2 separate regions of the Homo sapiens genome follow, and region 2 is linked to region 1. Evidence: fine-mapped QTL for protein levels in blood plasma. A gene starts in region 1. The other region holds a variant in brackets. All regions are shown on one strand. Distances are from middle to middle.

Region 1 (5,379 bases):
GGAGAGAAAGTTTCAAGAAAGAGGAACTAATGAACAGTGTCATTTGATGCAGACATTTAAGTCAGATGGCTGAACTTGACAACTGGAAGGCCTGGGACATCACTCACAGACAGTAGTTTCCCAAGAGGATAGGGCCAGACTGCATTGGGTTGAGGAGAAAATGAGACGAAGACAAAAAGAGAGCTCCAAAAAGCTGAGCTGTGAAAGGAGAAGACTCAGGAGGTTACTGGAGGGGCTTAAGTTTGGAAAGTTTTGTTTTGATAGGAAGTTAGGAGGATTCTAAGCATTCTTTCATGACAGATGTCCATTTTTAAAAAGTAAAATTCACATACAGCTTGTTAAAAACCTGTAAAACACTTCTTAAGTCATTAAACTAGACTTGGGGACATGATACAAAGGAATTTTTGGACACCGCCTCCCCTCTTCACATCTTGAGCTGATCACCTACCTCGGGCTCTACTGGGCCTACACTACCAATTGGTAGATGCTCTCATCAGGCTCCAGACACATCAGCTTTTCCTCAGTTCTTCAAACCCACTAGGCTCTTTGCGTTCTCAGGCTTGCCTGTCACCTCTGCCTGGAAACTCTTGCCTTATTAATCAGCTTCCTCCATTGAGATCATGCAGCTGTTTCTCAAATCCAAGGCCTTTTTCTCACTGTATTAACACACACAATCATAAAACATTTACTGCACTCTCACTAGTTGGCTCTGTGCTATATGCTTTATTTGTGTAATTTCACTCAATTTTCACACTCATCTTTTCATGTAGACAGATGTTTTGAAAATGATCTCCACTGTACAGGTGAGGAAAGAAAGGAGGCTGCATAACTTGTCCAAGTTCACACAAGTGGTGGTGCCAGGATTAGAACCTAGTTCTTCAAAAATAAGACAAATCGAGGCCACTGCTCACACAATACTCTAGTTTGGGAAGTCCTGATCTAATTTCACTTATGTTCCGAGATTACACCTGCACTTTCCAGGCTATGTCCCTAATCCACAAATTCAAATTTCATCCCCTCCTTCCACTTGCTTTCTGATGGCGGGAGGCAAGGGCAGAGAGCATCGGAGGGCTATTCCGAACTTCCAATTCTGCCTCTCCCGAGGATGCATGTGGGAAGGAGAAGAAATTCAAACGTTAGCAACTTATCTCTGAGCACTGAGAAAGAGGTAACCCGGTACCTAACAAGCGGCTGGCAGTTCTGGAGCTGAAGCCAACAATTCCCACACTGCATTAGTAGCAAAAGTGCTTACCTTAACTGCCACCTCCGGAGCCGAGTCCACTGCCACTGCTAGAGACGGCTTTGATGAAGGCGATTTAGTCAAGTGCATGAGGGAGTCGGCGGCTGGCAGCGGACACCGACTGCTCTCACTGTCCGAGTCCGATTCGGACCCTGAACCCGAACCATAGGAAGCGGCCAGAGCTGCAATCGCAGCCGACATGACGGCAACAAATCTTCTGCGGAGACCCTGCCAGGGCGGAAGAAGAAGAGGCTCCCAGGTCCTGACAGATTGCAATGGAACACATCATTAACTTTCTTTGCTAAGAAATAATGTCTTACATTTTGAAACAATAAGCTAATTATTATTAGAATAACTACTGTCGAGCTGAGAGCTTAAAAAAGTTTATCTAGGGAAAAAGGGAGAATTATAATAGTTTATAACATTTAGGACCTAGTTGACTAAAGAATATGAGTTCCAAAATACCTTGAGGCCTCGCGGTCCTGCACTCCCAGCGTGCAGCGCGGCAGGAAGCGCGAGAGGGCACAATGGGAAGTGTAGTTTGCAACGAGGGGGCGGAACGGGGGCGTGTCCCCCTTTGACCCCGCCCCCGAATGGATGTTCCATTCAATTGGCTATCATCTTCCCTCATTCCCTAGCCAAGCAGTGTTCTCTTCGTCCCCCTCCCCCAAACTGAGGATTGGGCAATACCACAGAACCTCAGGAAAGGGGGGAAGAGCGAGCTTCGGCCCCACTAATGGGGGAGTGGGCGGAGGCTGGATTTCCCACCTCGGCTGCACCTGGGCACTGGAGGCTGAAGAGGAAAGTGAGAATCTGAAGTTTTGAGACCTCTGACTGGCCAGGAATAGCTCCTGGGGCGGGGGGCAAGGATGGGACCATAGGCGGAAAGAGTCTCGCGGTCCCCCCTGCTTCTGGCGCGGGTCCCTGCGCCCGGTTGTGGAGCGTCTCGCGCGGGGAGGGGGCGGGGGGAACGGCAGCTCGCGGTGTTGTTCACTCGCGCGTCGAGCACACGGTGGGTCCGGCGGCGGGTTGGCGCCCCAGGCGGCGTTCCCTGTGGCCTGGCGCCTGGGCCGCTGCCCTGAGCGGGTTCCGCCCCAGAGCCCGACCCTCCTGGGGGCTCTAGGCGGAGTCCCGCGAGCCGAGGGGGACCGGCGACCGCTGCCGAAGCATGAAGAAGGGGTAAGGCGTGAGCCCCCAAGATTTCACGGTGAGCGCGAGTCCCTGAGGAATTGCTTTTTTCGGGGAGGGGGTGTTGGGAGAGGAACTCTTCCTTACTGGCCGGAGCAGACCGAGTGGTGTGTGGCCCGCAAAGGTGACGGGGATGGATGGGCGCGCCTTCCCCGCCCCGGCCCCCACCCCCATCCGCGGGTTTTCCGAGCGCCCACCGCCCACCCGCCAGCGGGGCTGGGTGCCGAGGGAGACGGCGGCGGGCGCGCCTGGGGCTTGGCTGCAGGGACCGCCCCGGGGCTGCTCTCGCTGGAGAGACTGTGGGTGTCACCTGAGGTGCCACCGCCCGGGCTTCCCTGCCCACCCGCGCCCGCGGTCCGCCCCGTGCCTCTTTCCGGGGGAGGCGGTAGCCCCGGGCGACAGAGAATCCCCTGCTCGCCCTACGTGCGCGAGGCTCGGTAAAGCGAGCTCGTGCGTTTGCGTGTTTGCTCCGCGAGTCGGTGTCTGAAAACATAACGGTAAAGCGAGTGCGGGCATCCTTTTCTTCGTTGGAAGGGGAGGCGAAGCGGTGCTGTCGCTTCTGGTGCCTGTTCATGGGGGCTGCCTTGGGCAGAGTTACGGAGCCGCTCACTCAGCGCTCATGTCGGCAGGACTCGCCCATTGTGCCACCCAGATAATTATTCAACTATGCAGCATCCATTGCACCTTTCCCATTTTTCTTTTCCCCTTGCTACAGCATGCCCCCTAGCTTCGGTACTCTGACACCTTCTCTTGCACTTGCGGATGATGAACTGGAATAACGATGAAAGAAAGCACATCCGATCTCAACATTCACGTCCTGCCCTATAACCGATTAATTAATTGATCCCCAGCTAGACTAGGTACTTAAATACGACTTACTCTAATCATTTCCTTTTCTATGTAATAAGATGTGCGGTGGATTCGACTTAAATTTTTTCTTTGGTGTTAGATTCACGATTAGCTAAGGTCTTTTTTCTGTTCACTAATTGATGTAATTGACTTATTGGTTATTCAATCCGTCTAATGTTCTTAAATTTAAATTTGCATGGTAGGTAACATTCATTTTTCTGATTGTTCATAGCATTATATCATAATTAGAAATGCAGTCTCAATTTGAACTCTCAGGAACAGTTTATCCTTTATGCTCTAAGTTTCTGTTAGGAAACATTTTTGTTTATATTGAATATTTGAATGAAGTATTTGATATAAAATTTCGGAAGTTTTGAATAAGAAAAGTTTTGTATTTGTTTTTCGGTAGCAGAATATGTCATTACTAATCGTTGCCTTCCATTGAATGGAAGGATTTAATATTTAAGATGAGGATTTTAACCATCATATCAGTCATTCCCTAATTTATCTGATTTTATTTTTTATTCACTTTTTTCTTTGCAATATCATGTATTTAATTACTTGTTTTAGAATCCAGTTTTTTTTTTTCTAACTTGAATCTACAAGTATGAGTAGGCTTCAGTTTTGCGTGATCTACCTGAAGGATGAAATTTTTTTTTTTTTGCAAATATAAGAAACCACTGTTGGTTACTTGATTTTTATGTTAAAAACTGTTTACATCTCATTATTTAAAAATAAATGATTCACTATAAAAAGTAAGTGTTGTATTTTTATAATTTTCCTTTTCCATCTTTCCTTGTTTAAGCTTGTTGCATTTACCCTTTTGATAAAAGAGAATCACATAAGCATTGCAGAGGCAGTTTTAAGGTATAGTAATTGTTTTATGGCACTTGGAAGTGGCGTACATATAATATAAGTTGATGGTGTAGGATTAGTTGCTTGGTTAGGAAATGACCTTGCAATTTACAAAATGGACACCTTTGTGCCTTGGTTTCCTTATATGTAAATGGAGATAATATTTAGTAGGTAGTGTGCATAAATTCAGGAAAGGTGTGTTTTTGTAGTCCTTTTAAAGAAAATTTAAATCTTTTAGCTGATGAATGATTAAAAAATTTCTGTGAAAAATACAATGAAAAAATGTCAGGATTTTCCATGGCATATTAGAATGGCTGATTAACATTGATTTTTGCTTTGGAGAGGTATGCCTCTGAACTGAAAAATGTTTCTCATCTATCAAGGGTTTTAAATAATTGCAGACATAAAGGTTATTACAGTTAATACCTACATATAGTTAAACATATAGATAAAATAGTTAATAGTAAACAAAAATTATGACTTGATAATAAGTAGAATATTGAATTAAGTTAGTGAAGAATAATATATTCGAAAAATATTAAGGCCCTTTTTGTTACAAATTTGCAGGTGTTACAATCCAAAATACATAGTTGTGATCATTTATAAGGTATGCTATAGAGTTACTTTATTACTCATGTTTGTAAATATTCATATATTCAGAGACAGTTTTAATATTGTATAAGACTATATTTAATTATACATTTTGCTTTATTTTAGGAATAACTTAAGATATCTTTTCCAAGTGTTGGATTTTCATTATCACAGTACATAGTACCTTGTGATTTCCTTATTGGACTACTATCAAAAGATTATGTTATTAGCACTTTTACCAAAACAGTGCTTTTGGTTACTTTGTGAGAAAACTTCATATAGATAAGACTATTAAAGTGTGTTTAAAGTTACTATTGTATGGTTTCGTTTTTGAGAATTTGTTTTATAATGTTTTCTTAAATGAATTAAAATTTAGCTGACACCGTCACTTGGGTAAATGCAGTAAAGTCGTGGTTTTTCTTAGTTCTTTGAGGAGAGAAACTGACCTGCAGCTTATTGTCATAAATCCAAAGTTGTTAGTATAGTGTTTAACAAATAGCAGGGGCTCAATTTTCTTTGTTGAACAAATAAAATGAATGGGTAAAGAATATCCATTGAATTAATATATTTAGTGAAACATTTTTAAAGATTTATCAAACATTATAATTAATGAAATGTATAACTTTATCTCAGGAGAAAAGAGAAAAATGAATTTC
Region 2 (5,379 bases), 220 kb before region 1:
TTACATAAACACAGTAGTATAATAAAATCAATATCATTATATTGATACAACACTATAATCTATGGACCTTATTCATATTCTGCCAATTGTCCATATAATGTCCACATGTAAATATAAATACACACAACACATAATTTTTTCCAGTCCGTGATCCAATTACAGTCACACATTGTCTTCAGTTGTCATGTCTCTTTAGTCTCCAGTCTGTCTTTGTCTTTTATTACATTTACAAGCTTGAATAGTACAGACCAGTTGTTTCATATAATAGAATGTCCCTCAGTTGGGGTTTGTGTGATGTTTCCTCGGGATCGGATTGAGGTCCTGCATGTTGGGGTGAGAATGCATAGAAGTAATGTTGAATCCTTATTGCATCATAGCAGGAGGAAGATGATATCAGTTTATCCCCTTATTGGGGCTGTTAACTTTCATCACCTAGAATGCCAGTTATCTCTACTGTGAGGTTACTACTTTTTCTCTTTGTAATTACTAAATATTTTGTTGTGATATACCTGAAACTATGTAAATATCCTATTCCCATGAAACGAGTTCCTATGAAAGTAGTACTTTCACCTACGAGTTTTAGCATCCATTGATGATTTTTGCCTGAACTATTTATTACTGTGATATTTTCCAAGTGATCATTTTATAACTCCATCTATATAGTTTGCTTTCTACTGTAAAGAAGTTTTCCTTTTCCTATATGTATTTATATCAGGATGAACTCATTGGTACCTATTTTATTCAATGGATTATAATTTATCCCCCCCATCATTTTGATGTTCAAATTGTCCAAGATTAGCTGAGTAGGAGCCCCTTCAAACTGCTCTTGTGTCTTTTTGATATGTTCACTTGATTTGCTTTTTTTTTTTTTAAAGCACTTTTTTACTTTGGGGCACAACAAAATTCCACACACCCCAAATTTGGAGAAGAAAAACATTTTCTTTTCATGAATATTTTCCACCACCTTTCCCTTAACACAAACCTGCTGCAATGCCACAATTTAAATTTATGAATTTAGTGCAGAAAGAAATTGTCTTTTCTCTTTTCCTCTGTCCCCTGAAATTTTCACTCTGTTGCAATGTAAATCCTGATTTGAGGTGTAGCTAAAGAACACACCTCTACCACAACCACCTGGAAGTCCAAGTTGACATTTAGAATTTCTAGATTCCTAAGAGTCCTGCATCTTCACATGGCAGCAAAGGGGCCCAGGAGCATGCCGGGAAGCACCCTCGCTCTATCCATATCTTCCCTGAAGACAGTTGTCCTTGGCCACTCCTTGGGCTCCGGGGTGCACACAGTGGCACAGTCTGCCCCCGGGAGGAAGACAGTGCAGGTCCTGGAAGAGGACAGGGAATATGGGGATCCTGGGTCCCCAGAAGACGGGCTGGAAGTGAAGGGAGAGGGCTCTGGCTGGGCACATGCCCGAGCCCCACACACTCACTGCCTCAAGAAGAAAGCATGGCTGGAGAAGGGCCAGACAGGGGTCCTCTGGGTGCCCAGCTGAAAGAAGGTGCGGCTCAGATGAGCCAGAGTAAGTTTTGAGTCCTAGTGATAGCCTTGAGCTTATGGGTAATCAGGGAAGGCGGTGTGAAGCGTTTCTTCACAAACTTTCTCGGGCCCAAGCTTTCATTGAAGCATTGGCTCTAAAGTCTAGAAGTGAAATGCAAATGCTTAACTCCTCCTGGGAGAGAGGGCTCATTGCTTTCATTTTGCTTTAAGGGCCAAATTGTTGATAAGGCCCTGGGGAGATGAGGAGAGTTCTGATGGGGCAGGGAGGGGGCATGAAGGCCCAGGGCACCTGAAGAGGTGTCACTGTAGAAGGGGGCAGAGGCAGGGACGCCAGCCTCCCCCCAGCACACAGTCACCTCCTCTGAGGAGTCCTCATAAGTCTCCCAGTTGGCCTGGTGCCGCCCTGCCTCGTGGGCAGCGTCCTCCTCTGCGGGGGCTGGAGGTCCCCACGCGGGCCCGTGATGAGGCGCCAGTCCCCGCCCCGGCCCGCTCCTGCGCACCCTCCCAGCTCCCACTACTCCGAGAGAGAGTGTTTTAGCTCCGGGCAGCCCCCGTCATTTCCACACCGAATCAAATGTTATCTGAACAATGTCTTCTTCCTGCTTCCAAAGCATCGCCTTCTAGAAGACAGGCCCCGTAGTTCCATCATCTCTGTGTTTTCAGACCTGACCCCTGACTGCGGCAGGAAGGCCTGGGTCAACCCTGCCACCCCGTCCTGGGCTGCGGGCCTGCGGTCAGCATTTCCCGCCACTTAAAATGACCCCCAGCCAGGGGGCTTGGGGCTGCGAGGACGGCAACGCCATCGGCCGGAGACCGGCGGAGGGGGCGGTGCCTGGGAATACGCCGCCTCCCGGCTGTGGGTCGGTTATGGGCAGCGGGGAGGAGAGGACCGAGGGCTGCCCTTTTACCCGAGTCCTGGGGAGACCTTCTTCAGTCCGTTTGTTTGATACGCGTGCCCGCCAGGAAGGCGGCTGAGATGTGAGTGCCTCAGACAGAAGGCACAGGGTGTGCTGCGGCGGGAAGACTTCAGAGCCTCTGCTCCTCACTCCCTTGTGCTCCTGAGACCTGGCTCCCTCCTGACCCCGGTGTGGGGCCTCCACAGACAGCGCCCGGTGGCCCCTGGCCATGCAGATTAGCTCCCTGCAGCCCGGAGCCTGCGTCCGACCAGGCTGGTGGAGGAACAAGGCCACGTGTCCCCTTTCCTCCCTCAGGAGGCTTTGCAGCACGGGACTCCTCTCAGCCCAAGTCCGGCCTTTCAGGGCGAGCATTTCAGGCGGGGTGGGCGGGAGGGCCGCGTCCCGGTGAGGGGGCGACACCTGGGGCTCCCTCTGGGCTGCCACCCACTGACCTCCCGCCAGGCGACCCACATGGGACGCCACACAATCTCTGTTTGCTCCTCACACTCAGGGTCTATTTTGTTGCCACCTACGCCTCTTCCACACAATGTGAGTGTTCAGCCTTCAGTGTTCTCACTCAAAAATAAGCATTTGCTCAGCAAGCCACACAGCAATGGCTTCAGCTTAAGCACGATTCTTCTGAAATAATACAAACTTCCACAAAAAAATTTTGTGCTACAAATTAGATCTTTATTATTTTTCAAAAGATAGAAGAGATCATCTTGTTCTCAAACAAAAAGTAAAACAATAATGCCCAATAATATACAGAAGAAACACAAACAAAAACCCCACAGAGTTTGAATCACCCACACAGGTCATATTTCATATCATATTCTGCCAGTGGAGTTAAATTCTGCTGCTTTATTACTGGCTCCTTCCAGGAAATGAGTCAGCGAGGCATTAAGTCTTCCTCCAGGCAGCCCA[T/C]CTAAATCAATCCTCCCAGAGGGACCAGGATTGTCCTGCCTTTGACAACATTCAGGAAACTGGGTGGCCCATTTCTGTGCTGGGCCCTGTAACATGGACACGTTGATCTCTTTCCAAGAGGCCATGCCTTATCCTGTGTCCCCAAGGAGGCCCTATGCTGACCGCAGCACTGGCCACACTGAGCTACTTGCCCTGTACTTTCCTCGCCCCTCCTCTGATTAGGCCTCTCTGTAACTTTCTCTGGGGGAGTCCTCTAATGCCCATCTTTTTCTTCTCCTGTATCTTGTGTTCTCCTGCTCGGCCTGACTCACAGCAATGCCTGTGAAAGAAACTGGCTTCCTCAGCACCATCATTAGCCCCATTAGCCAGCCATGTCTGCCCTGGAGCTCACCAGGAGCTCGTCTTTTCCCCTGTCCCCGCTGCCAGCCACAGGCTGTCCGCATCACAGCCCCCACCTCCCTGTTTAGTGCTACCTGAGATTCCTTTCTCGCCATGGCTTCAGCTTCAGTGGAGTATGGGAATTGCCTCTGATTCCAAGAGCAGAGAGGGGATGAGGGGACTCTGCTCCTGGGAGGCCAAGTGTGTGTGTGTGTGTGTGTGTGTGTGTGTGTGTGTGTGTGTGTACGCATTTAAGATTTGCTTAGTGGACCCTTATTTTCCTCAGGGGCACAGCCAACTCAATTTACCTCCTTGCTGAAACTCCCAGTGAGGTGAAGGAAAGGCGCTGAGGATGACCATCCTCCTTGTTTGTGGGTCAGGTTGATGCAGTCCAGCAGAGGGCTAACTTAAGCTTGGGGAAATGGACACTCTCATGTTTTAGGGTGATGACCAGAGGATGCTGGGGCTATTTCGTGAGCCCTGCTTCTTGAGTGCCCCTAACCCTATTTCCTCATGGGAGGTTGGGACAATGGTATTCTCTCTCTCCAGGATGAGGTCTTGCTCAGTTGCAAGAAGCCCCAAGAGGAAAGTCATCATGCTTCTTGTACCTCCAACCATGTCACCCCAAACTTCCAGAATAACTACCTCATATGGTCATAAAAGCAGCCTGGTAGGCACTTGGTCACCTAATTTAACATCTGACTTTTGGGTACAGTTTCCTCCTATGCACTGGTGCCATCTTATGCATTACCCATGGGATACATAATAATGACTGGGCATCACTATGTGGTTGCATTACAACAACATAAAGGTGACCAGTCTCCAGGCACATTTAGTGAGTTTTCCTCTGGGATCCAAGGCCTGGGAGCAATCCAGCACAGGAAGCCTGACAAGGCCCAGCCACTAGGATAGCTTAAGAAGTCACCAGGCACAAGTTGGACTTTTATCAGTAGCTTGACCAGCAGGGAACCCTTGAAATGGAAAAGAAAAGACATTTGCACTTATTGAATTCTTGCATAATCATCATAAAAACCCTATAAGTTAGGCATTCTTATCCCTAGGAAACAATTTCAGTGAGTTTTAAAAATCTGCTGATATCCCAAGGCTGGCAGATTCTCTTATTCCCCCAAATTATGAAAATAATTCTGAGTTTTAATTAATTAGGATATCTAGAGCACAGAACATAATGTTCAAATATTAACACATGGAATCTACAATGTAAGAATTTAAAAAACCCACAAAATCAAAATAATATTCAAATAATGATCAGTTAAAACTTTTCAAAATTGAAATATCATCCTTAATGAAACATAAGTGATATACAGGTATGGAGGATAAGAATACACATAGATAATGCACTGGGTCTTGTATTTTACAGTAGCATGAAAAACCCCTAAGCACTTTTTTAAAAATAAAAGGTCTTTATTGAGCAGCTATAGTGTGTTAGACACAGTGTTATGCTTTTTCCAGATGTGTCTCATTTCATTTTCACAACGAGCCTAGAGAGTCAGTATTACTACCCCCATATTATGGATATAAGATTAAAGTTTAGAGAAGTGGAATAACTTGGCCGAGGTCATATGAATGGTAAAGGGTAGAGGCCTCCTAAGCTCTTTTTAAAGTTCTTTTCTTCGTGTTCACTTTTTGGAAGATTATAAACACACAGAAACAT

Alleles and levels. Alleles are on the strand shown, and positions count from the first base shown. The strength of an association depends on the size of the effect and on how common the allele is.
For the plasma level of the protein whose gene starts at base 2,216 in region 1, T is the high allele of the variant in region 2 and C is the other (strong association).

Evidence for each region. PIP is the chance, under the fine-mapping model, that this variant and not a neighbour inherited with it causes the effect. Protein levels are from antibody-based Olink assays in UK Biobank. Linkage for the fine-mapping came from a reference panel and not from the study's own genotypes, which makes the PIPs less certain.
Region 2: its variant is fine-mapped to the plasma level of the WASF1 protein (UK Biobank, PIP 0.98).

Annotation. Positions count from the first base shown.
Region 1 is chr6:110,176,507-110,181,885 of GRCh38, reverse strand. It overlaps WASF1 (WASP family member 1), which reads left to right and starts at 2,216. Exons shown (of 11, transcript NM_003931.3): 1 at 2,216-2,447; 2 at 3,144-3,288. CDC40 (cell division cycle 40) reads right to left here and starts at 1,459. Exons shown (of 15, transcript NM_015891.3): 1 at 1,253-1,459. The coding sequence starts at 1,441. RefSeq lists silencers at 2,187-2,296, 2,537-2,856.
Region 2 is chr6:110,396,957-110,402,335 of GRCh38, reverse strand. The region is part of intron 4 of DDO (D-aspartate oxidase); the gene reads left to right. Among named protein-coding and RNA genes, the nearest start is that of DDO, 16 kb to the left of the region's middle. The variant T/C (reference allele first, on the strand shown) is at 3,330.